Linked DNA regions of Homo sapiens. The protein of the gene in region 1 purifies or fractionates together with the protein of each later gene. This does not show direct contact. Each region holds a gene or a part of one and is shown on either strand. Other genes may lie near its edges. The genes, in order: VEGFD, PTPRU, MR1, FCSK, ZNG1B, F10 and ZBTB25.

What was found.
Region 2: the proteins of VEGFD (region 1) and PTPRU purify together in Homo sapiens (affinity purification with mass spectrometry; one large-scale study listed by BioGRID and IntAct). This does not show direct contact.
Region 3: the proteins of VEGFD (region 1) and MR1 purify together in Homo sapiens (affinity purification with mass spectrometry; one large-scale study listed by BioGRID and IntAct). This does not show direct contact.
Region 4: the proteins of VEGFD (region 1) and FCSK purify together in Homo sapiens (affinity purification with mass spectrometry; one large-scale study listed by BioGRID and IntAct). This does not show direct contact.
Region 5: the proteins of VEGFD (region 1) and ZNG1B purify together in Homo sapiens (affinity purification with mass spectrometry; one large-scale study listed by BioGRID and IntAct). This does not show direct contact.
Region 6: the proteins of VEGFD (region 1) and F10 purify together in Homo sapiens (affinity purification with mass spectrometry; one large-scale study listed by BioGRID and IntAct). This does not show direct contact.
Region 7: the proteins of VEGFD (region 1) and ZBTB25 purify together in Homo sapiens (affinity purification with a luminescence readout, with the first as the bait; one study listed by BioGRID). This does not show direct contact.

The regions. Positions count from the first base shown.
Region 1 is NC_000023.11:15,363,914-15,367,413, forward strand, and holds part of VEGFD (vascular endothelial growth factor D preproprotein), read right to left. Parts: intron 1-3,500. UniProt on the Homo sapiens protein: Growth factor active in angiogenesis, lymphangiogenesis and endothelial cell growth, stimulating their proliferation and migration and also has effects on the permeability of blood vessels.
Region 2 is NC_000001.11:29,278,022-29,281,521, forward strand, and holds part of PTPRU (receptor-type tyrosine-protein phosphatase U isoform 1 precursor), read left to right. Parts: intron 1-990; coding exon 991-1,100; intron 1,101-1,434; coding exon 1,435-1,636; intron 1,637-2,017; coding exon 2,018-2,120; intron 2,121-3,500.
Region 3 is NC_000001.11:181,054,483-181,057,982, forward strand, and holds part of MR1 (major histocompatibility complex class I-related protein 1 isoform 1 precursor), read left to right. Parts: intron 1-742; coding exon 743-783; 3' UTR 784-3,500. UniProt on the Homo sapiens protein: Antigen-presenting molecule specialized in displaying microbial pyrimidine-based metabolites to alpha-beta T cell receptors (TCR) on innate-type mucosal-associated invariant T (MAIT) cells.
Region 4 is NC_000016.10:70,453,103-70,457,394, forward strand, and holds the start of FCSK (L-fucose kinase), read left to right. Parts: upstream 1-1,492; 5' UTR 1,493-1,528; intron 1,529-4,292.
Region 5 is NC_000002.12:113,436,282-113,440,490, reverse strand, and holds the start of ZNG1B (zinc-regulated GTPase metalloprotein activator 1B), read right to left. Parts: upstream 2,801-4,209; 5' UTR 2,623-2,800; coding exon 2,469-2,622; intron 1,472-2,468; exon of another isoform or gene 1,420-1,471; coding exon of another isoform or gene 1,374-1,419; intron 1-1,373. UniProt on the Homo sapiens protein: Zinc chaperone that directly transfers zinc cofactor to target metalloproteins, thereby activating them.
Region 6 is NC_000013.11:113,143,299-113,146,798, forward strand, and holds part of F10 (coagulation factor X isoform 1 preproprotein), read left to right. Parts: intron 1-552; coding exon 553-797; intron 798-3,500. UniProt on the Homo sapiens protein: Factor Xa is a vitamin K-dependent glycoprotein that converts prothrombin to thrombin in the presence of factor Va, calcium and phospholipid during blood clotting.
Region 7 is NC_000014.9:64,479,839-64,483,338, forward strand, and holds part of ZBTB25 (zinc finger and BTB domain-containing protein 25), read right to left. Parts: 3' UTR 1-3,500. UniProt on the Homo sapiens protein: May be involved in transcriptional regulation.

The DNA.
Region 1 (3,500 bases):
GACCCTTCCATTTTGGAATTCTGGACTCTGGAGCTGTGAGAAAATACATTTCTGTTATTTTAAGCCACCAAGTTTGTGATAATTAGTTATGGCAGCCATAGGAAACGAAAAGATGTTTATCATATTATTTTTGTGACAGTAGCTACTGACAGTTGTTTTCATCTCTGTTATTTGTTTGAGAAATTGATCCACAAAGGCCTGGGTAACCTGACTACAGTCACAAAAAAAAGATATCAAGCCCCTGATAACCTGAATTTTCTTACTTCTAACTCTCTTTGTTTTCTTTTAAAACCTACTATTTCAAAAACATGATTTTTTTCTGACAAAATACTTTTCTGGGGTTTTACGCTCTAGAAGTATAAGAGTTTAATATTCTTATGGAGCTATCAAATACTCTTCTAGAGTTTGCTTTCCATACAGTTGCATGAACTGTATTGGCGGATACAGTGCAACTGTATTGGATGGGTTTGTAAGAAAAAAAAGACTTGGTAGATAAAAGATTTTCAGTATGTAGCCTCTTGTTCAAAATTGGGGGCTTAGTTATATAAATAATGATATATGCATACAATGAATTCTATGTGATCATCAAAACAAAGGATGTAGAGGTATATTGGGACAGAACGAATTGAGATCCTTCCTGGAATGTGCTGGAGAAATGATAAGGTGATCTATCTATGGCTAGGGCCTCCGATTTTCTCTTGCTGACCCGGTAGTTACTAGATGTTTGTTTTGCTGGGTGGTTGGAATATGCAGGCTGAGGCCATTTGTAGAGCTGGGATGAGGGAGGAGGCAAAGGACCAGTGCTGAGAGAGGAGGGTGGAAGGGAAAGGTGAATGTCAGCTGCCTGCTGCAGGGCGAGGAACAGTGAAGGAAAACAAAGATGAGCAAAAGGGGCTGTTAAAAGGCTTTGCATTGGGTAGTGTGATGTACACTCTCCTCCACTGAGCCTCAAAAGCTGTAGTTAAAATCTACATCATGCATTAGCATTTTAGGAGGAGAAATTTTTTTTAGACATGCTAGTGGACACTGAGAGTTGTCCAAAAATGGGTACTCAGAAGAGCAAGTGTGGTCTAAGTCATGTGTGATTCAGCTATGATATAACCTCTTTTAAAATTACTTATGTATTTTTACTTATGCACTTATGTACATCATATATACATACTTATATGGATATATGAGGAACATCTGGAGACATATACATGAAAATGTAAACAAAGGTTATTCTTTATTTATTTTCGAGACCGAGTCTGGCTCTGTCATCCAGGCTGGAGTGCAGTGGCACCATCTCCGCTCACTGCAACCTCAGCCTCCCAGGTTCAAGCGATTCTCCTGCCTCAGCCTCCTAAGTAGCTGGGACTACAGGAGCCTGCCACCATGCCCGGCTAATTTTTGTACTTTTAGTAGAGATGGGGTTTCGCCATGTTGCGCAGGCTGGTCTTGAACTCCTGGGCTCAAGTGATCTGCTCGCCTTGGCCGCCCAAAGTGTTGTGATTACAGACATGAGCCGCTGCGCCTGGCCAACAATGGTTATTCTTTAGATCAAGAGCTGTCAAACTATGACCTCCCAGCCTAATTTAGCCTGCTGCCTGCCTGTTTTTGTAAATCAAGTTGTATTGACACACAGCCATGTCCATTCATTTACTTATTGTCTACGGCTGCTTTCATACTACAAAAGCAGAGTTGAGAATTTGAGACAGAGACCTTCATGGCAGTTTCAATCTGAGGCCACTTGTCTTTTTTATTCTCAATTCTTTAATATTCTCAGCCATTATCATTTTCATTATTCCACCTATAATATTGCCTCTACTCTCTTTTTTGAAAAATGTTGGAGGCTTTTAATCATCTTACATGTCTCTTAAATGTGCTTTTATATTTAGCTATTTTTTCCTCTTCACCTCTCTCTAATGTGTTATGGGTAAATTAATTGGTTCATCTTTCCAATCACCAACTCTCCAATTGTTGTGAGTCTAGAGTTTACTTTGTTAAGGTTTTAATTTCAATCACCGTATTTCTAATTTCAAGCATTTCTACTTCATTCTTCTTCCTATCTACTTTCTGTTACATTTCTGTATATTCTTCCTAGTTTGTTTGTTTGTTTGTTTGTTTGTTTTGAGACCCAGTCTCATTCTGTTGCCCAGGCTAGAGTGCAGTGGCGCGATCTCGGCTCACTGCAAGCTCCACCTCCCGGGTTCACGCCATTCTCCCTCCTCAGCCTCCTGAGTAGCTGGGACTACAGGCGCCCACCACCACGCCCGGCTAATTTTGTTTTTGTATTTTTATTAGAGACAGGGTTTCACCGTGTTAGCCAGGATGGTCTCGATCTCCTGACTTTGTGATCCACCCACCTCGGCCTCCCACAGTGCTGGGATTACAGGCGTGAGCCACTGCGCCCTGCCCCTAGTTTGTCATTTCAATTTTATGAATATTATTTCTTTATCTCTTTGAGGGTTGCAAATATTTTTAAGTATTTCTTCAAATTATTTTAGATTTTAACTTTATAGGTATGACATATACTGATTATTCATTTTGTTGCTGTCATTCTTAGTAATAATTATATTAACGTGATTTGGAATTTTGGTTAGTAGTTCCATTTTCATTCAGAGATTCATTTTTCTTTCTCATTATTCTTTCTCCAACATTTAGAAGTTTTATGGTTGTACCCCATAATACCCTGGGTCCTGAATCCGAATCTTGTTGAGTATTTATGATTCAGGGATCAGCTCAGCTCACGTCCTAGTTGCAAGGAAGTATCTGCTTCCTCCTTTGCCCCGTTAAGTAATTTCATAGAAGTCACAGCTCCAGGCAGCAATGAGCAGTAACTCTTCCTTCCTCTTTCATGGATCTGATGTAGTGCACTAAAAGAGCCGATTTCCAACTGAAGCTAAATTTTTGATGGCCCCTGTCTTCTAGCCCAGATCCATAAGTCCTGCAGCTTCAGCTTCATGGCTTTAGTGCCATTTCTGTAAATGATTGTCATCTGCAGATGTTTGCCATCATTCAATCAATTTTATATTCTGTGGACTAAGAACGATCTGAAAATATGAATCTACAAGGTTATCGCACTTGGGAATCCAGATGTGAGTGTGTGTCTGTGGGTGCATGTTTTTAATAAAAGCGGGAGAATTATAAGCTGGGGGAAAGAGGCAACAGACAGGAAGAAAGAAAAAGCATATGCAGGAGAGCTAAGGCAGGACCTAGAGGGGTTGTTTTGACATAAGTGCCAGAGATAAGTGGATGTAGTGTGACTAGATGAGAGGATCACTGTCAGAAACAAGAGGAAAATACAGAATGACATGGGTTTGTAGATGGCAAGACTGCCTGGGAAGCTCAGTGAGCTCATACCTGTGATTTCTCACTTTTCGATAAAGTTTGAATCAAGGCAAAATTGTGGGAGTGAGAGGAGTGGGGAGCATGAGGATCATAGATCGGGTTTGTGAAATTGGCTTGCCACAGCTTCTTCATCTAAGAAATCTGGAGATGAAACTGAACAATTGCTAATG
Region 2 (3,500 bases), on another chromosome or scaffold:
GTTGGCCAGGCTGGTCTCGAACTCCTGACCTCAAGTGATCCGCCTGCCTCGGCCTCCCAAAGGTGCTGGGATTACATGCGTGAGCCACCGTGCCCAGCCAGTTGTCCTTCTTAAGAGCTACACTCGAATGCTATCACAGGTCCAAAGCCTTTCCCTGGGTTCCTACAGATTCCAGTTACCACTAAGCTCCTTGGTTTATGGCTTTGTCTTGCTGCCGCACGTGCACAGTTTTCTGTTCTGCACAGCATTGGCCTAGATTCAAAATTCAGCTCCTTCTTTACTTTCTGCTTTTCTCTGCCTTAGGACTTCAGCTTCCCCATAGTGGTTTATCAAGGTATTTTCCCAAGCAAAGATCATTCTCTTCCTAAATGACACTCCTGTGCCTGCCATTAACAGTATACATTTACACAAGAAAAACAAAACAAAGCCATGCCTGCAAGTGTTAATGCTAAAATGTTAACAGTATCTCTGGGTGATACAATTGTAGATGCCATTAATTTTCTTTAAGCTCATTTTGATTTTCTACATTGAACATGTCATTTATGTAATTAGAAATTTTTAGACGAGAAAATATCGCCACCCATAATCCCAATACCGCAATGCAATTGCTGTTTTCATTTCTCTGGCCCATGTGCATATTTTCTGAAAACTACCCAACTGGAACAAAATTGGAGCCTTCAAACGTATTTCTCTCCTGAATGCAACCTACACAGTAATGAAAATGCCAGCTATCCATTTTGAGTACTTAGTAATAGGTTGAACCATATGCAATTGCTGATGTTTGCCTTGGGGCTTTATGTACATCACATCATTTGAGTCCTGGCTTGAGAGGGGTTATATCATTCCCACTTCACAGCTGAGTTAAGTAAGGTGCAGAGAGGCTGAATAGTCCATGAGAACCAGGTAGGAAGCGGCAAGGCTGGAATTTAAACCCAGGTGTCTGGCACCAAAGCCCACTTTCCCCTGGCCCCTGCTGCCTTTCCCTTGCAGTGCCCAGTGGGATTGCAGCCGAGTCCCTGACCTTCACTCCACTGGAGGACATGATCTTCCTCAAGTGGGAGGAGCCCCAGGAGCCCAATGGTCTCATCACCCAGTATGAGGTGGGTTTGGGACCCTATTACAGTGGGGGACCCTGGTGGAAGGTGAGAGGTGGCCCTCTTTCTCTCTGCTGCTACAGTAGGAGGTGCATGGGAGGACAGATGTGATTGTCATAGTTTCTTCAACTATGGCCAGGTCTGTGCCCTGTGTATTCTAGAGGAGGGTCCTGAAGGCAGGAGGGAGAGCCGAAGATGACTAGAAGCCTGGCTTGATGGCATCCATAGTCTCCTTTGCTTAGCCTTATCTCTCACTTCCCTGGGACATGGTGGGTGGAGGCTGCTGGTCAGGGATGCTCTGACCATCCAGTGCCCACCTGCCTGCCAATCCTGCCCCCAGATCAGCTACCAGAGCATCGAGTCATCAGACCCGGCAGTGAACGTGCCAGGCCCACGACGTACCATCTCCAAGCTCCGCAATGAGACCTACCATGTCTTCTCCAACCTGCACCCAGGCACCACCTACCTGTTCTCCGTGCGGGCCCGCACAGGCAAAGGCTTCGGCCAGGCGGCACTCACTGAGATAACCACTAACATCTCTGGTGAGCCCCACCTGACCCGGCCCAGCCTCTTCGGAGGTGGCCCAGAATCCCAGGGTTCCATGGGCAGAAGGGAAATGGGGGGCATCCTGGGGGTAGTTACAGAGGGCCCCTGCTGAGATAAATATGCCATTTAGGAGTTAAAGTCAGGCTCAGGGAGGATGAAGTCAGAGGAGTCAGGAGACTGGTCAGTGGAATCAGAAGATTGAGGTTGGGGCTGGTGCCTGAGGTCAGGGGCCAGGGTAGCTCAGGTCATGTCAGCAGGAACAAAGAGGCTAAGGCTGAAGTAGGGGAGATCTGAGGACTGTGGTCAAGGAGGCTGGAAGCCTGGTCTTCCTGGTCCAGTGGCCAAGCTCCAGCTTGTGACCCTGTCCCCTTCTCCAGCTCCCAGCTTTGATTATGCCGACATGCCGTCACCCCTGGGCGAGTCTGAGAACACCATCACCGTGCTGCTGAGGCCGGCACAGGGCCGCGGTGCGCCCATCAGGTGGGAAAGCGGGGACGGAGGGGTGGGAGTCCAGGGCCTTAGGAAAGAGGCCCCTCCTCTGACCCAGAGCCCCATCCCAGGCCAGCTCACCCTTTTCCTCCCTCAGTCTCCCACGCAGGGCTTGGAGTGTCTGGAGGAGATTGTTCTGTGATGCTTGGCAGGCAAGAAGCCTGCAGTCCCTCCCCTCTGAGGCCATGGGTCTCAGATGGTGACTGTCAGGAGGACCCTGGATAGGTCCAGCCTGGAGAGGGGACTGTCCAGGCCTGTCCAGGGGGCCTTTCCTCAGACACCTTGGAGAAGTGAAACTCTGGGGGCCTTATATCATCCCAGCCTTTTCCTGGAAGCACAGAGATGGGCTTTCTAGAAGGCTGGGGCAGCCAGCCAGATAGGGCCATCTCTCTGGAATGGCTAGGAGCTTGGCTTCTCCACCTCCTCTCCCCAGAGGAAGCTGGGCTTGCTGGTGCCGTGGTGGCTGCCTCTGCTGGGGAGAGGGTGCTGGAGACAAGACTGTGTGTGTGTGTGTGTGTGTGTGTGTGTGTATGTGGGATGTGAAACTGGGTGTGTCTTTGTGATAAAGACATGGGATGTGTGGTGTGAGTGTGTGTGAGAGGCGTATATGGGAGACATAAGTGTGCATGTGTGTGAGAGTGTGAGGGTGTTTGTGCAACTGTGTGCACGTACTGTTAGCCAGACCCCGTGCTAGGGGCTTTATCTGCATGAAGCCATTTATCCTCATGGCAGCCCTGTGGCATGGGTATTATTACCTTCATTTTACATATCGGGAAACTGACTCAGAGCCTGAATCACTTGCCCTCAAGGCCACACAGCTAGTAAGTGGTGGAGCTGGGATTTGGAAGCCAGGTCTATCTGCTGTGCCTGTACCTTTTCTAGAAGTTATAGAGCCTCCCTGCCCTTCTGGTCCACCCCTTCCTTCCACGAAGGTACATGCTCTGGGAGAGGGTGACAGCCTTTAGGTGGGGGGGGTGTGAGGGTCCTAGTCAGTTCCCTAGGAAGAGAGTGGGCTGCCTGGGTGACCATGGCAGTCCCTCACCTCCTCACTCCCCACTGTATCCTCTCCTCTTCTGCTTTGTCTTCCCTGTATTTGCCACTGCAAATCCTGCCCTGGGCTGATTCCCAGACCCTCAGGGAAGACCCAGGAAAAAGTCACGGGGTCTGCAGGGCCTTTTGCCTGTTGCTAGAGCCTCAGGGCCCTTATGCCACTGAGTCTGGGATGGGTTGGGAACCCTTTCTTTCTTGTCCTCTTGAGGGATCCTGTGAGCAGCACTGGTCAGGGTCCCTCAGGATGATGATTGCAAGGCTAGGTGGGGGCAGGCTTGGTGGGAGGGGAGCGGCAAGATGGCTGCATGACCCTGGGCATGT
Region 3 (3,500 bases), on another chromosome or scaffold:
TCAACTCCAATTCAGGTGATAACTGTACAAAAGCATGTTGTTAGATCAAAGTAAAACCAACCCTTTTACTAGAAAATCAGCTCAGAGGCCGGGCGTGGTGGCTTACAACTTGTAATCCCAGCACTTTGAGAGGCCGAGGCAGGCGGATCACTTGAGGTCAGGAGTTCGAGATCAGCCTGGCCAACATGGTGAAACCCTGCCTCTACTGAAAATATTAAAAAAAAAAAAATTAGCTGGGCGTGGTGGCACATGCCTGTAATCTCAGCTACTCAGGAGGCTGAGACAGGAGAATCGCTTGAACCTGGGAGGCGGAGGTTGCCGTGAGCAAAGATCGCTCCATTGCACTCCAGCCTGGGCAGCAAGAGCGAGACTCTGTCTCAAAAAAGAAAAAAGAAAAGAAAAGAAAAGAAAATCAGCTCAGAGAGTTAATGGGTTGTTAATGTTTTCTTTATAGATAAAGTACAGCACTAATCCTAATCCAATAAATGATAGTGAAACAAACAAAAAATTTTTTTACAATGACATCCCTCTCTCAATAATTATACAGACTGTGAGTTCCTGCTTTTTATCTTATAGAGTTTACAAATTTGAGCTAAAGTTTGTCAAGTACTAAGAGAATCTTGACAAAGCAAGCTAAAACTGTCGATGCCTGTTTCTCAGATTTTGCTGAACACTGCATACTTTATTTTTGAGCTGTGAGGAAACATTCTTGTAATCTGACTAAAAACCCCTTTCCTTTCAGAGCAAAATGGAGCCATCTACCTTCCAACACCAGATCGATGATTGCAGATCCCTCTTTTCCAGTTCTCCTTCCTCTAGGAGCCATGTTATCCTCTGTCCCCCATAGAGTCAAGCCTAGTGCTTGAAGGTCCTGACGACACCCACAACATACATGAGAGTAATGGGATTGAGCATTTATGGCAGCAACAGAGGAGCCACAAAATGTTCTTTGTTCTTTGGCTCCAAAAAGACTGTCAGCTTTCAGTCTCTTTTGATGGACTGTTTTATCAGAGTTGACTTTAAATACAGCTTGTCTCATGACACAACGCTTCCCTACATTCTATTTGTCAATGATGATTTGCAACTAGTTGGAGATTCTCAGAGCAGGAAGGAATCTTTTCAACCAGAGCAGGAACTGTCTTCTGCAATGCCTTGGACTTGAGCCTCCAGCCTCCACTTGAACACCATGTGAAGGGAACCTCAGTACTTCATAAAATGGCCTTTCTCATTCATCTTTCATGGGAACATTTATTGTACAAGCGCTTTGAATATCATGGGCACCATGACTGTGACCCTACAGGTAGGATTGGATCACTCCATGAGAGTAGCCGGCAGGTTTCTACAATGGCCTGGGAATGGACTGATTATTTTTATACATTTTCTGGCCTGAGAGAAAGCCAAAGTCCCCTGCTGTTCACAGCAACCCTGCCTGGGAGCTTGGAATCTTGGTAATCTGCCCGGTTGGATCTATGGAGGTAGTCTCACCCTTTTTGTCTTTTGTGGGAAATTAAGAGAAATAATTATCAGACATATCATCACCTCCAGTGGAACTACAGAGACCTGGACCCAGCTGCACTATTTTAATGTAAAAATAACAGTATGGCCAGGTGCAGTGGCTCACGCCTGTAATCCCATCACTTTGAGCAGCCAAGGCGGGCGGATCACGAGGTCAGGAGATTAAGACCATCCTGGCCAATATGGTGAAACCCTGTCTCTACTAAAATACAAAAAATTAGCTGGGCATGGTGTTGCGTGCCTGTAGTCCCAGCTACTTGGGAGGCTGAGACAGGGGAATTGCTTGAACCCGGGAGGCAGAGATTGCAGTGAGCCGAGATCACGCCACTGCACTCCAGCCTGGCGACAGAGTGAGACTCTATCTCAAAATAATAATAATAATAATAATAATAATAATAATAATAATAACAGTATATTTGGTGTCAGGAGAGGGCTCAATTCTCATTTCTGCCTTTCCTGTGCTGGCTCATGGTAGCTGGGCATGACTTGCCTTCCTACATAGGTTGTCTTCATACATATGCACTGGGAATCAATAAAAGCCCATGGTGAGAATGAACATCCCCTTAATGTTCCTTACTATCCCCAACCCCTGAGGCCTCACCTACTGCCCTGCCATGTGGAGCTACTTGCCCTGGGGCTGCCAGTCACACATTCCTCGGTCCTACTTCTCTGACCCCGTTTGACTCTGCACCTGAGCCCTAATGCTTACTTCAGTGACCTGAACTTTGACAAGTGGCTTTTGTCCTGCACCTCAGGTTTGACCTCTGCTCTCCCTTGACCTTGACTGTGACATTTGACCTTTGGCTTTAATCATTACAGCCTCAGATAAAGGTACCTTCAGCCCGGGCACAGTGGCTCACGCCTGTAATCCTAGCACTTTGGGAGGCTGAGGCAGGCGGATTCCCTGAGCTCAGGAGTTCAAGACCAGCCTGGGCAACACGGTGAAACCCTGTCTCTACTAAAATACAAATAATTAGCTGGGCATGGTGGCATGTGCCTATAGTCCCAGCTACTTGGGAGGCTAAGGCAGGAGAATCACTTGAATCTATAAGGCAGAGGTGGCAGTGAGCCGAGATCACACCACTGCACTCCAGCCTGGGCAACGGAGCAAGACTCTGTCTCCAAAAAAAAAAAGAAAGATACCCTCAGTGTGCCAGGCCTCTAAGAGCTCACCTGCCAGGCTTCCTCCTTGCTCCACTGTCCCATGTAATTCCATATATGAAGCTACCACTGTACATCTCTCTTTTCCGGTGCCTGTTGAGTTGCATAGAAGCACAGTTGTGTTTATTTTGTTTTTAGGGTTGCCATGGGCAATTTCCGTGCCACTTTTAAGCAGTGTTGCACTGTGAAGAGAATGTAGGCAAGTTTATTTCTGGAATGGTTTCTTCTTACAATCAGAATAGTTAGGATGTAATATATTTTTGGGTGGGCATTTAAAGTGAAAAGGTACATATTTACATAGACACAGGTGATAATGTATCTATGTAAATGCCTTTTGATTCTGCAACTGCAGGATACTCTCATCAAAGACACAGATAAAAAGCCTCTGTGTTTCCAAGGCCTTGCCCTACACCTAACACATAATATGTCCAAATGGATGAAGAGGAGGCAAGGACAAGGATGTGATGACAAAACATTCTGTTATGCACTTGTAGCATTTATGTTTCTTCCTGGGGGATTTTATAATACTAAAAGAATCATAATATAAAGAGATGATTAAAAAAAAAATACTGCCGGGCACGGTGGCTCATGCCTGTAATCCCAGCATTTTGGGAGGCCGAGGTGGGCAGATCACCTGAGGTCGGGAGTTCGAGACCAGCCTGACCAACATGGAGAAACCCTGTCTCTACCAAACATACAAAATTAGCCGGGGATGGTGGCGCATGCCTATAATCCCAGCTACTCGGGAGTCTGAGGCAGAAGAACCGCTTGAACCCGGGAGGCAGAGGTTGTGGTGAGCCGAGATCGCGCCATCGCACTCTAGC
Region 4 (4,292 bases), on another chromosome or scaffold:
ACCTTTCTCCAAAGATGATTTTGAGGGCTTCAATATTTAAAGGGGAAAGGTCAGATATTGGGGAAAGAGGAATTTTTTTTTTTTTTTTAGACAGGGCCTCACTGTGTTGCCCAGGCTGGAGTGCAGTGGTGCAATCTCAGCTCACTGCAACCTCTGCCTCCCGGGTTCAAGCGATTCTCCTTCCTCAGCCTCCCAAGCTGCTGGGACTACAGGTGCGCGCCACCACGCTCAGCTAATTTTTGTATTTTTAGTAGACGGGGTTTCACCATATTGGCCAGGCTGGTCTTCAACTCCCGACCTCATGATCCACCCGCCTCGGCCTCACCAAAGGGCTGGGACTACAGGTGCGAGCCACCGTGCCTGGCCTGAAAGAGGAAATTTTTAAAAGGCATGGGTAGGTAAGAGGCAAATGGCTGCATTCTTCTGAGTCTTTGATAAGCCTTTCACATGTTAGAGGGGGATAGAGGACTAGTCACTTATGCATTCATCTAGCTCAGTGAATATGCATTTTTACATAAGAAAAAATAAACATAGGGCAGAGGAAGCAATGAGATATGCATTTGTCTCAGGTGAGCTGAGAGATGACTTTCAGTGCTGTCAAAGCCCAGCACCTGTGAAGATAAGCTATAAATTTACATTGTCACTGAAATTCCACACAACTGTTTTAGGGTACAGATTTGGGGGCACACAAGGAATTTCCTAGTGGGCAAGTTGTGAGGGCCAGGCCATATCTAGCTTTTTTATCTTTGTAGTTATCTTGTTTAAGAATAAAATGGGAGGTAGGTTTCCCTGATGCAGTTCTCAGCTTGACTTTTCCCTTTGACTTAGTGACTTTGGGGTCCTGAGATTTATTTTCCTTTCACATAGTAACCTAGAGAGAGACACTCAGAGTATTTCCAATTGTCATCTATGACAATCAATGCTGCCATTCACAACTTTCCCAAAAGGTCCGCAGATCCCCTCCCCATTACGGAGTTGGAAAGTTTCTTCCCAAAGGATCCACGTGATGAAACCAGCGCAAACCTTTCCAACTGCAAATCGAATGGCAGCTGCTTCCGCTTGGGCAAAGCGTGATTTTTTTTTTTCCTCCATCAGTGGATTTTTCTCCAGAGGAAAGCGGAAGCTCCTGGTGCCGTCCAGAAGGTGTTAAAAAAAAAAAAAAAAAAAAACCCAAACGAGAAAACAAACAAAAAAGCTACACATTAACCTATTAACCTGGATCCCGGAGTCCCAGAAAACGGGCCTCTGTCTTTAAGGCGCTTCGGTCCTCTGGGAGTTGTAGTTTCGTGGGTCCTGGAGCGGCCCCCTTCCCATCTCCCTTCTGGATTGCAGCCCCGCTGCCCTTCAGGAAAGCGCTGCCCCGGCCACCCACGCTGGCCTATGCGGTGGCTCCGACCGTGTTTTTTGCCGGACGGGGGCTCGGCCTTGGGGGGGCGCGGAGGTGAAACTACACTTCCCGGAGTGCACCGCGAGGGTCGCGCAGCCTCGCGTTAAAGAGCCCGCTCCGCCGAGCGCCGGGCGACGGCAGGTACGTCAGTCCGCGAGGGTCGCCGCAGCGCCCCTTGCGCCCCTTGCGCCCCTTGCGCCCCCTCAGCTTTCCGGTGCACCCTCCCTGACTGGGAGCACCGAGTCGACCCGCGGGCCGCCCGGGTCCTGACAGGGAAGAGTCCCCGGGAGCTCTGCGGTGCCCCGGGAGCCCACAGGTGTTTCTACGCTCCCGCGTCCATTTGGCCTGGGTCTTCCAAGGGGAGCCCCGCGACCCGGCTGGTGCGGCCGGACCTGCTGGCAGCTGGGACCGGGAGGGATGCGGGCCTCAGAGGATCCTCACCCTGAGGCAGGTGGGGCCCTGGATGCCGGCGCTGCTCTGATTTTACTTTGAGGCCGCTTCTCCTCTCTCAGTTTACCCGGCCAGGGCTCAGTATTATGCACAAATCTCAATGATGTGCTCTTGGGTAATTTACAAAACGATTTTACTCCCAAGTAACTTCTTTCGGTCTGTTATTTAGAAGGCAGCAAGTCAGAGTCCTCCGTGAGCCTTTTTTTCCTCTTTAAAGTTCTAAAATGTGCAGTCCCTGACCCACCTGTCTTCAAAAGGTTCATATGAAGAGTTCTTAGTACTTTATTCTATCTCTGGCTCCCCAACCCTATCCCAGTCTTGGACAGCGTGGGGCTGAGGACACTAAAAAATATTTCAACTTGATCTCAGCAGATGAGGCTGTATTGAAAGTGGGTAGAGGCTGGGCGCCAAGGCTCATGCCTGTAATCCCAGCTACTTGGGAGGCTGAGGCGAGGGAATCGCTTGAACTCAGGAGATGGAGGTTGCAGTGAGCCAAGATCACGCCACTGCACTCCACCCTGGGCGACAGAGCGAGACTACGTCTCAAAAACAAAACAAAACAAACCAACAACAACAACAACAAAAGAACCTTAGGGCCTTAGGGCACACTTTCTCAGGACCTCTTGAGATTGTGTAACTCCAGCAAACTATTAATTAAAAAAAAAAAAAAGGCCGGGCGAGGTGGCTCACGCCTGTAATCCCAGCACTGTGGGAGGCGGAAGCAGGTAGATCACCTATGGTCAGGAGTTTGAGACCAGCGTGGCCAACATGGCAAAACCCCCTCTCTACTAATAATACAAAAATTAGCTGGGCGTGGTGGTGCACGTCTGTAATCCCAGCTACTTGGGAGGCTGAGGCAGGAGAATCACTTTAACCTGGGAGGCGGAGATTGCAGTGAGCCGAGATCGCGCCATTGCACTCCAGCCTGACGACAGAGGGAGACTGTCTCAAAAAAAAAAAAAGCCAGGCATGGTGGCTTACACCTGTAATCCCAACACTTAGGAAGGCCAAGGCGGGAGGATTACTTGAGTCCGGGAGTTGTAGGTCAGCCTGGGCAACAAAGGGAGGCCCCATCTCAACAAAAAATAAAAAACTAGCAGGACTCATGCATAGTCCCAGCTACTTGGGAGGCTGGGATGGGAGGATCGCTGGAGCCCGGGAGTTTGAGGCTGCAGTGAGCTGTGATCACATCACTGCGTTCCGCCCTCTGGTGACAGAGCCGGACCCTGTTTCTCAAAAACAAAACAAAACAAAACAAAAGCCTAGCCTGCCTGTGCTATTAAAGCAATGGCAAAAGCCAAAATTACTTTTGCACCAACCTAATAGCTATGTTTCTGCTTTTTAAACTACAGTTTTCTTGTCTAGAGCTTCAGTGAGATAAGAACCAATTCTTAGGACTGTTGGGTGGGTCATATGAAGTGACACTGATGTGCCTTTGCCATAGTGCCTGAAAAAGCACTCCATATGTATTAGCTACTTGTATCATTTTACCTTTTTTGTTAATCTCTCAGGGGATGTCCCTCAGCCTTGCTTGATTCCCGAGGCCTTCCCTGATTTTTTTCTTCTTCAGGACAGTCTTTAACTCAGAGAATGTTTGAGAGCTTCCAGTCCTTCCTCCTTCAGGGACAGGTTAAACTCTCCTGCTTCCTTGCCTGGCTGGAAGGATTATCATTCATTGAGCCACTGGTGTGTGCCACATACTTTACATTGTATTTCATGCTGAAAACAGTCCTGGGAGGTTGATGTCTTTGGCCTTAAATTTCAGATTAGGAAACTGAGGCTTAGAGAGGTTAAGTAACTGCTGGGCATGGTGGCTCACGCCTGTAATCCCAGCACTTTGGGAGGCCGAGGCAGGCGGATCCCAAGGTCAGGAGTTTGAGACCAGCCTGGCCAGCATGGTGAAACCCCGTCTCTACTAAAAATACAAAAAATTATCCAGGCATGGTGGTGCGCGCCTGTAGTCCCAGTTACTCGGGAGGCTGAGGCAGGAGAATGGCTTGAACCTGGGAGGCGGAGGTTGCAGTGAGCCAAGATTGCGCCACTGCACTCCAGCCTGGGTGACAGAGCGAGACTCCATCTTAAAAAAAAAAATAGATTAAGTAACTTGCTCAGGATCCTACAGGAAGCAGGAAGAGGTAGAGATGGGGACAGAGCCTTTTGGGACTGATACGCAACCCAGGACTGTTCCTCTGCCCCTGTCATTAGTAAGGGATACTCTCCCCACTCTGGCCATGACCTGTCACCTGCCCATGTCTCTCTATCACTATGCTGAGATGAAGACTGGGCTCAGAACTTCTGGGCCATTGGACTCTCTGGGGCATTTCTTTTTTTTCTTGAGACAGAGTCGCTCTGTTGCCCAGGCTAGAGTGCAGTGGCGTGATCTTGGCTCACTGCAGCCTCCGTCTCCTGGGTTCAAGTGATTCTCCTGCCTCAGCCTCCTGAGTAGCTGGGACTA
Region 5 (4,209 bases), on another chromosome or scaffold:
AGTATAGAATGGGAGAGACTTAGGGCAATGAGGAAAATCTTAAAACCAGTCCAAGCCTGAGACAGAGGCCCTGAACATGAGTGTTTCACAGGGCAGTGATGTGAAAACTGAAAGGAAAGGGTGAATGTAAGAAATCTTCTAAGAGAAGATTTACTAGGGCTTTTTAACCATATTATGAAAAAAAAAACACTTTAAGACATAGCTCATTCATTCGAAGGTTTCTAATACGTTACAGATTTATGCTGAGCCTTGGTGAAAAAGTGAACAAGATAGTCTCTGCCTTCATAGAGCTTAGAAATATTAAGGGGGCCGGGCGCGGTGGCTCACGCCTGTAATCCCAGCACTTTGGGAGGCCGAGGCGGGCGGATCACGAGGTCAGGAGATCGAGACCATCCCGGCTAAAACGGTGAAACCCCGTCTCTACTAAAAATACAAAAAATTAGCCGGGCGTAGTGGCGGGCGCCTGTAGTCCCAGCTACTTGGGAGGCTGAGGCAGGAGAATGGCGTGAACCCGGCAGGCGGAGCTTGCAGTGAGCCGAGATCCCGCCACTGCACTCCAGCCTGGGCGACAGAGCGAGACTCCGTCTCAAAAAAAAAAAAAAAAAAAAAAAAAAAATTAAGGGAAGGGGGGAATGGAGGGGAATTCAGTGAATAAGGAGGCAATTATGTCACAGGGTGACATATTCAATAGGAGATGCACAAAATGCTATGGAGAACCTAAGAGGGACATCTAGCCAGAGGAGTCACAGTAAAAAAGTACCTATTCCAAGGGGCTAAAACACTTGGCACCTTTGAAGTAACATTAGTTCATTGTGCGGGGCCAATTTGGCAGGCTGGAAAGGTTGGCAAGATCCAGATGCTACAGGTCCTTGTAATTCATGTTAAGGAATTTGGATTTTAACCCATAGGGATGCCACTGAAAGGTGTGACGCAGTCGGATTGACATTTATAAAGATCATTAAGGCTAACATGCAACGAATAAATTAAAGGGCAGCAAGACTCCAGATTAGTCAGGAGGCTTTTAGAGTATTACAAATGGTTGGGATCACAGAAGCAGGATTTGGGGGGATGGTAACAGACGAAGTTTCAGACATGTTAAGTTTTAAGTTGTAGGACATCAAAATAGAAATTACACAGGTGTGTAGCTAAAGATGGACAAAGGGGGAAGGAGGAGGGAGCCTTAAAAAGAAGCCAGAGAAGCAGGTGGAAAAATCAGAAGAAAAATGTAATAGAAGCCAAAAGAACAGTGTTTCAGAAAGGGAAAATGGTCAGGGATAGGAGTGAAACTATCCCTAGATTCAGCAACAAGGTTGCTGGTATTAATTCTCACTCCTGAGCTTCAGATCATTTTCTCCAGTGATCTACTGACCTACCAGTGAGCAATACGGGAAAGGCCCGAGCGGCACGTTTGAAATACATTGTTTTGGACAAGAAATTTGTTCATCTTCTCAGCAGAGCAGCCTCTGAATAACTGTGGGGAAACGCCAAAAATAAATTCCTTTATAAAATTACTTCCGAGCAAAAAACGGGAATAAACTTACAGTCTACAAAGTTTTTTAAAAAACAAAAGCAGTTATTTCTTATTTTTACATAAAAGGTCACGAAGTGGCCCAAGTCTGTACCTGTCTCTAGCAACAACTAGGAATATTATTTCCCGGAAACAGTATCATTTTATTTACATTTCTTAACTTTTTCCAAACTTCTAATACAGTCATATATTTGTTCTAGCCCTTCTATTTAACTGTAAGGTTTAAAAATATATTTCTCAAACTTTTCCAGTAAGAAACTTCTAGTGTAAGTGCATAAACCGCCCTTCACGAAACTACCAAGTTCACAAACTTGTGGTTTCGAGTATCCCTGTACACTCTAAACGTTCTTAGTTTGAGAAATAGTCTTGGAGGACAGAGATTTTATTCTTACTTCCTACGCAGTGGTTTACAAACAGACCTCAAAAAAAAAGTGTTTAAGATAGGAGCGCTCCCTGCCAACTGGCTGGAGGACTTTGGCTCGTGGGGAAGGGGAATCTACTGACGAAAGCCCCACGTGTCGGGCATTTTACAGACGGGACATCCTTTAATGGCAACAGGTAGGTGGTTCCGGCCCTGTTTCACAGGTGACAGGTATTTCTCCATTTTCAGGTGAGGTAGATGAGCGTCAGGAAGGTAAGATAACTTGGTAGGAGGTCACAGAGACAATCAGGGGGGCGTGTCTTAGCGTCAAAGCCTTGTTTCAAAGGCTAACTTTCCATCTCACTTGAGAAATGGGAATCTAACGCAGAGGGGGCCGGGCATCATTAACTCCCAAGATGAGAGGCAACCCATACGAGAAGCAAGTGACCCAGCCCCTACCTCGAAGACATTTGCTCTTGATCATGAGGCCCCAATGCCTCAGGAGAAGAGGCACCGGCAGCCCGCAAAATCCCATGACACCAGAGGTCACGCCATTTTGTGACTGGGATGGTTAGTTACCTAAATACCCGGTGATAATTGTGACTGGGATCTTGGCGCCGAGGCCAGACTTTTCCTCCTCCTCGCTTTGCGTCGTCTCCATGGGAACCAATTCAGGACAATCCTCCTCCGCAGGATCCTCCTCCTCATCCGCAGATCCAACAGCCGGTAACATTCCGGCCTACAGCACGTCCCTACCTCAGCTGAACCGCTGGGACCAACACGCCGTACCGCAGCCGCGCACGCCCAGCACGCCACTCCCGGCCTGCCCGGGGCCTGACGTCATCACATCGCGACGCTCGCTGATCCCGCCCGGATTACCTGGGCTCTGGACGAGAAGCGCCTCGTCCCTTAGCCACACCCCCCGGGGAGGTGGGCTCTCCCCGACGACAGCTGGACACGCCCCTGGGCGTGTTCTGTGAACCTGAGCGACGCTGCGGAGAGTCCTTAGGGCGCACTAACCACCTGTCTGAAGGTGTCACTGGCGCCTAGAGCCTTAATAAGCTACTGGCTGTAGGTAGAGCTGAGGCCAGCCTGCTGGAAATCTGGAGTGGGTAGCCTGACCTAACCAGTTCCCACAGGGCATAGATTTTATCAACTTGATTTTTTAGTCTCGTTAAAAGAAAAAGTTTTAATTCATAGGGGAAAGAATGGAAGGTTATAACATTACAATTTTAATTGTAATTTTTATACCTGAAGGATAACCAGTGACAATTTTTTCTTTTTTTATTATTACATATTATATATGTAATTCCAAATTTTTAGTATTCATGCATCACTTTTATTTACTTTTTTCTCATTATTTATTTGGACCTCAGGTAACCTAAGTTCATTAATCGTATTTGCTGGTGCATGACACTCTCATCACTAATCCATAGATAGCCCTTCTTTCTAATATAAATTTATAGTGAACTCCTTTGACCTCATTCCTAACCTAAAAGCATTACCAGTAAGTTACACGTACCTATGTGCACCGCCCCTGCTTCCAATCCACAGCCTGCCCCATAAGATAGTAACAACAGTCATGAATTGGTTCTGGATTGCTGATCATTCCCTTTTAGTTTTATCACATATCCCACGTATGTACTTACAGAATATGTTGTTTAATTTTGGGTGTTTTTGAGCTTCATAAAATTATCCATATAATATATAAACTCCTGAGGCTTGCTATATTTTTCAGCATCACTGCTGTCTTGTATTCTATTGTGTGGCTACACGGCAATTTATTCATTTCCTCTCAATTGTTCCAGGTTTTGCTCTTATGAACAGGGCTGCTATGAACATTTTTCCTGACATATGTGTGTGCAACTTCCTCTTGAGTGTCTGTGTAAGAGCTGAATTGCTGGGTCCTAGATTATTCAAATGTTTTACTTCACAAGAAAATGCACAATTATTTTTCAAAATGTTTGTACAAATTGATACATTTTCCCAGCAAATTATAAGAGATCTCATTGGTCTGTTATGTCAATATTATCAGGCATGCATTTTTCACCAATCAATTGAGTACAAAAGAAGACTTCATTGTGATCTTCATTTGCATTTCCTTGATTACTAACAAGGTTGAGAATCTTTTCATGTGTTTTGGCAATATTTAATTCTTAGAATGACCCTGTAGAGTGTTATCCCTCTTTCAAACATGAGGCACCAAGAGTTAAGTTACTTGTCCAGGTTAGGTCATAAAAATCTATCTGATGCACAAGTAGAATGTTTTACTACTATCCTGATGCCAAATAAAAGGTTGACTTTTCCTTCCTTCTCTGAA
Region 6 (3,500 bases), on another chromosome or scaffold:
CTGTGCTATTCCAGACGCTCTCCTGTGCCTCCAGTTGTTTGCGTGCGCCATTCCTTCTGCCTGAAAACTTTTTTTTCTTCAATGTTTCATTAGGAAAAGTTTTCCAACACACAGCACACTGGAAAGAATTTTGCAGGGAGTCGCACACGCCCAGCACTTGGGTTCTCCTGTTGGCATCCTCCGGCCAGATGCATTCATCCCATTTCGCCCGGCCCGTTTGTCTCTGTCCATCCGTCAAGCTTTCTTGACTTCTTGGTGCATTTTCAGGCAAACCGCAGACGCCAACACTCCCCTCGCTGCCTGGGTTGCTGCCTGGCGTCCATTGTTCACAGGCGGTCACCTGAGGGGAGGCCAACGCTCGGACAGCTGCGCTCACCTGCAGATCCGACCCCTGCCGACGACGTGGGGCCTCGCCCTGCAAGCCCGCTGCCCCTCCGGGTGCCCCTGCGCTCTGCCTCCCGGCTCTCTGACTCTTCTCCCTCAGGGTGAGCTGTGCAGGCTATGGGGAGCCTCTCTCTGTGCTGAAGGCCCCGGCCGTCCTCTTTCTTTCAGGGCCCTACCCCTGTGGGAAACAGACCCTGGAACGCAGGAAGAGGTCAGTGGCCCAGGCCACCAGCAGCAGCGGGGAGGCCCCTGACAGCATCACATGGAAGCCATATGATGCAGCCGACCTGGACCCCACCGAGAACCCCTTCGACCTGCTTGACTTCAACCAGACGCAGCCTGAGAGGGGCGACAACAACCTCACCAGGATCGTGGGAGGCCAGGAATGCAAGGACGGGGAGTGTCCCTGGCAGGTAACAGTAGGATGTCCCCTCGGGCCTGCTGGAGAGACCACCTGTCCCGCTGTGCACCTCGGGGAGGCCAGCCTGACACTTGGAATAGCAATCCGGGAAGGAACTGTTCCGAACTAGGACAGAGGGGCTCCGCCACCCAAGCCTGCCTGCCTGTCCCCTCCCTCCGGGCAGCCAAGGAGGCTGTGAGCTCCACAGGGAAGTGGCCGGGGCTGAGGGAGAGGCTGGGCCCAGGCAACGCCCCCCTCAGCCCCTTCCCACTGGGCATTTCCATGGCTGCCCGTGGCATGCCCAGGACGATGCTGTCCTGTGAAACAGAAGAGAGGGAGAAGGCGCAGCCACACGCTCAAGTGTCCTCAAACCTCCCCTACACCAGGAGACAAGGCTAAAGCCAGGGAGCCACCCACACTGCAGGGGCATCAGCGGGCAGGAGGACGGTGCCGGGTGGGCAAGGCCTCCATCTGCTCTTCTGTTTGACGGGAGGCAGAAAGAGTTGGTGTCCTCGCTTCATTTCTAATTTTGGAATTTTTTTACCCAAACACCTAAATCCTATGGAGGTAGATAGTACCTTAGAGAAAAACACATCTACTTATTTTCAAAGGTAAAAAAGAAAATCACTCTTTGAGGCTTTTTTGTTAAGAGACAGTACCTTGCTCTGTTGCCCAGGCTGGAGTGCAGTGTCGCGATCTCGGCTCACTGCAACCTCCACCTCCTGGGTTCAAGCGATTCTCATGCCTCAGACTCCCAAGTAGCTGGAATTACGGGCGCCCGCTACTTACGCCTGGCTAATTTTTTTTTTTTTTTGAGACGGAGTCTCACTCTGTCGCCCAGGCTGGAGTGCAGTGGCGCGATCTCGGCTCACTGCAACCTCCACCTCCCAGGTTCATGTCATTCTCCTGCTTCAGCCTCCCGAGTAGCTGGGACTACAGGCGCCTGCCACCACGCCCAGCTAATTTTTTTTGTATTTTTAGTAGAGACGGGGTTTCACCGTGTTAGCCAGGATGGTCTCCATCTCCTGACCTGGTGATCTGCCCACCTCAGCCTCCCAAAGTGCTGGGATTACAGGCGTGAGACAATGTGCCCGGCCATGCCTGGCTAATTTTTTTATTTTTAATAGAGACAGGAATTTCACCATGTTGGCCAGGCTGGTCTCAAACTCCAGGCCTCATGTGATCCACCCTCCTCAGCCACCCAAAGTGCTGGAGTTACAGGTGTGAGCCACTATACCAGGTCCTAATCTTTGATTGTTGATTTGGACTAATGCTGCCAGATTAAACAAATAAAAGCACAATACTTTCAATTAAATTTCAATTTCACATAAACTAGAAATACATTAAACAAAAGCACAATACTTTCAATTAAATTTCAATTTCACATAAACTAGAAATACTTTCAGTGTAAGTATGTTCCAAGTATCGCATGAAGCATACATATGCGAAAAATTATTTGCTGTTTATCTGATTCAAGTCAAACTAGGTGTATTAGTCAGTTTTCACACTGCTGACACATACATACCCGAGACTGGGTAATTTATAAAGAAAAAGAGGTTGAATGAACTCACAGTTCCACGTGGCTGGGGAGGCCTCACCGTCACGGTGGAAGGCGCAAGGCACGTCTTACATGGCGGCAGCAAGACAGAGAATGAGAGAACAAGCAAAAGGGGTTTCCCCTTAGAAAACCATCAGCTCTTGTGAGACTTATTCACTTCCACCAGAACAGCATGGGGAAACCGCCCTCACGATTCAGTTACCTCCCACCAGGTCCCTCCCACAACACACGGGAAATATGGGAGCTACAGTTTGAGATGAGATTTGGGTGGGGACACAGCCAAACCTTGTTGCTGGGCATCCTGTATTTTCTCTGGCAATCCTCACTTGGACTTGAATTTTCAGCGCCCAAAACCAGAATGTCCTCTCCTACAAGCAAGAATCTCAGAGCTGCCAGCGCCCCCATGAATTCCCCCAGGTCTTCCCCCACCCCAGACCGTGTGGCGGGTGAGCCTCTGTCTAACTATAAAGAGCCAAGCGAGAGAGGGATGCACTGAGGTGGCTCTGCAATGCATGTTTGTTGAGGGCCTTCTGTGTGTCAGGCACTGAGCCGGGTGCTGTGTAGGTGGGATATGAAACCATGAAGCCTCTCTGTGACCAATACACAGAAATCTCAACCTAGTTAGGGAGCTGAGACCGAAATCCTCCCAGTCCCAGGCACTGTGTGGTTGGGGCAAGAACCTCGATGCAGGAGACCCCACCGAGGATGAGCAGGAAAAGCCTCTTGTGGGGCTGAGGAGCTGGACTTGGAGCTGCAGGCGGGGTTTTGGAGGGGTTCCTGGGCTGGGGGACCAGGGTGGGGCGCCCTGGAGGGCTCACTGGAGGGGCCCTCGCCCAGCCTGTTGAGGTTTGCGATTCTTGTTTCCTGGTTCGAGTCTTGGCAAGTGGGCCTCATCTGCATCTTTAGGAAGAATGGTTGGTGTTCGTGTCTTAGAAAGCCTGACTTTCCCTCATGTAAGCTGGATGATGAGTTGACAAATTATGCAAAAAAGAGGCAAAAACATGACCCCTTTTCTAGCCATGAATGTTTTAAGAAATGTTTTAAGACTCGGTATTGTCAGTAGTTTCATTGGTCTGTACATGTGCCCAGCCACTATCACAGGACGGGAAACTCCCCAGAGAAAAGAAAACCAAAATATGCCCGGGCTCCAAACTTGCA
Region 7 (3,500 bases), on another chromosome or scaffold:
CTTGGGACTTCTCAGCCTCCATAATTACATGAACCTATTCCTTATAATCAATCAATCTCTTTCTCTCTCTCAGTTCTACCTGTTGTTTCTTTCTTTTTCTGGAGAATCCTGACTAATATACCTCAGTTGAGAACTACTATTGTGGATCATGTTACTGGGGGCAAAAGGCGATACAGTAGACTGTAAATAGAGAAGAAAGAAGCAGCTGGGCGCGGTGGCTCACGCCTGTAATCCCAGCACTTTGGGAGGCTGAGGCAGGTGAATCACAAGGTCAGGAGTTCGAGACCAGCCTGGCCAACATGGTGAAACTCCGTCTCTACTAGAAATACAAAAAATTAGCCGAGTGTAGTGGTGGGAACCTGTAATCTCAGCTACTCGGGAGGCTGAGGCAGGAGAATAGCTTGAACCTGGGATGTGAAGGTTGCAGTGAGCCGAGATCACTCCACTGTACTCCAGCCTGGGCAACAGAGCAAGACTCCATCTCAAAAAAAAAAAAAAAAAAAAAAAAGAAGAAGCAAAGCAAGAAACTTCTGGGAAATGACGAAATACTACCTTTCTTTCCAGAGACAGCAGTTGGAAAGCATTTGATTAGGACGTCAATTTTCGATTAACACAGATTATGGTCGGTAAGAATTAGGTCCACAAATGCATTTTTGCATCACACCTCCAAAATGTTACCCAGTACAAAGACTACTTGCCTCAACACTAGGAACACAACATTTGGCAAACACTGATGTAAAATAAGAACACATTCTATAAGCTAAGCTAATAAACTTGTTTTTGATTAAGTCACATTAATTTGTCTTGATAAAATATATGAAATTCATTGTTTCTTGCTCTGTCGCCAGGCTGGAGTGCAGTGGCGCAATCTCGGCTCACTGCAACCTCCGCCTCCCGGGTTCAAGCAATTCCTCTGCCTCTGCCCCCCTAGTAGCTGGGACTGCAGGCACGTGCCACCACACCCAGCTAATTTTTTGTGTTTTACTAGAGACAGGGTTTCACCATGTTGTCCAGGATGGTCTCGATCTCCTAACTTCATAATCCGCCCGCCTTGGCCTCCCAAAGTGCTGGGATTACAGGTGTGAGCCACCACACCCTGCCTTTTTTTTTTTGAGACGGAGTCTCACTCTGTCGCCCAGGCTGGAGTGCAATGGCGCAATCTCGGCTCACTGCAACCTCCATCTCCCGGGTTCAAATGATTCTGTCTCAGCCTCCCAAGTAGCTGGGACTACAGACGCGCACCACCACACCTGGCTTATTTTTGTATTTTTAGTAGAGACAGGGTTTCGCCATGTTAGCCAGGCTGATCTTGAACTCCTGACCTCTGGTGATCCGCCCACCTCGACCTCCCAAAGTGCTGGGATTACAGGCGTGAGCCACTGCCCCTGGCCAAAATTTTTGGCAGAGATGAGGTCTCACTATATTGCCCAGGCTGGTCTCGGACTCCTGGGCCTTGGCCTCCCAAAGTGCTGGGATTACAGGCATGAGGCACCATGCCCGGCAGATACACAACTTTCTAAAAGAATGTTTCTGAAGCAAATTCACAGTACATTAGGTGGATGAGTTTAGCCACACAATGTATTATTGATTTTGGTCTCCTGTATTAGCTATGTGTTACATGTACTTTGAAGATTTTTCAGTGGGTCTTTTTTATTGAACAAGTTTTTATAATCTAAGTTTATTTTAAAGTATAAGTTTATATTTGATCCATTCTGACTAAATGACTTTATTTAGCACAAAATAGAGGAGTTGATGACAGTTAATGTCAATTGCACCAGACCAATACTTAACTAATTAATCAAGTGCAGTACAAATACATACTGAAGCACAATGAATTCTTCCAGGTCTTCAAGACAAAAATCACAGTTTGTAATTCCTTGTATTTAAGACATCCAGGTTTGGGACTGTGCAATCTCACCAGTTTTCAAAATGTCCAACCATACAAACACAGAAGTACAGCAGAGAGAAATCATTTACAGACTTCACTCTTAAGAAATCAAAAATTAATAATTTAAGTGCCACAAATCTATATGTAGTTCAAAATATACAAAGACACAAATTACATTATGAAAATTCTTCACATGGCCCATTTTTACATCAATTACTACAAAAAATGGACATTTATCAAGTATCTGACTCACAACATCAAGAATGTGCCTGTACAAATAAATGTTAACGAAATTACACATTTTTCACACTATCTTTTTCCACGATTAATATGTATTTCCTTCAATTTTCAGTGAAGACTTTTCTAATAATACTATTATTACCTTCACCCCATTTCCTGTCCTCATCTACTATTTAGATCACCTACATCAAAGAAATAAAAATAGGCTGGGCCCAGTGGCCCATACCTGTAATCCCAGCACTTTGGGAGGCTGAGATAGGCAGATCACAAGGTCAGGAGTTCGAAACCAGCCTTGCCAACATGATGAAACCCCATCTCTACTAAAAATACAAAAATTAGCTGGGTGTGGTGGTGCGTGCCTATAGTTCCAGCTACTCGGGAGGCTGAGGAAGAAGAATCGCTTGAACCTGGGAGGCGGAGGTTGCAGTGAGCCGAGATCGCACCACTGCACTCCAGCCTGGGCAACAGAGCGAGACTCCGTCTCAAAAAAGAAAAAAAAACAAAGGTATTTATTTATTGTTTTTGTTCCTTTTCCTTTGTGTAAACAAAAACAATATATTTGGGAGAACTTTCAATAAAGCTGAAATTGACAAAGTTTTATTCCCAATAATGCCAAAGAACTAGTATCCTCCTTACTGAAGGCTAAAAAGAAACAGTGATGATTAAATTACAGTAGAACAGGAATTCTAGCAACAGTATTGTTTCTAGTTATTTGTAAAAAATAACAATGAGTTCTGTCAATTAGTTATTGAATATTAGATAGTACATTACTGCTTTTAAGAACATTTTAGAATTTATAGGCTGAAATACTAAAGTTAATAGGTCTAGCTACAGAATAAATGTCGTTTATATGGTTGATTTTAATCAATAATACTGAGAGAACTTAACACGTTTAATATAAATCCTCACAACACCCCTGTGAGGTAAGTATTGCTTACACCCACTTTACGGATGGGAAATCAGAAAGAGCAAGAAGTAACAATCTCAAGAGTTATAAATAAAAAAATTTTTTGTTTTCTTATAAGGCAGACTGTGCTGAGTTCTGATGATACGCTAATAAGAACAAATACTAAAACAGTCTCTATTTTTCTCCAGAAAACAACTGCGTGAGATTTCAAAAGAAGGAAAAATTTTAAGCTGACTCAAGGGGAAAATGTTTAGTATCTGCCTGATACACACGAAAGTGCATATGACATTTCCAGTTTCAAGCTTGGTAATCATTATGCAAACTGCACTATACTATTAGGATACTGGCTAACAGTATAGCTCCATTTTGTGGAGATGTAGTCAAAAAATAAAGGTTTTAGCTGGAAGAACTTTTTTTTTTTTGAGATGGAGTCTCGCTCTGTCACCCAGGCTGGAGTGCAGTGGT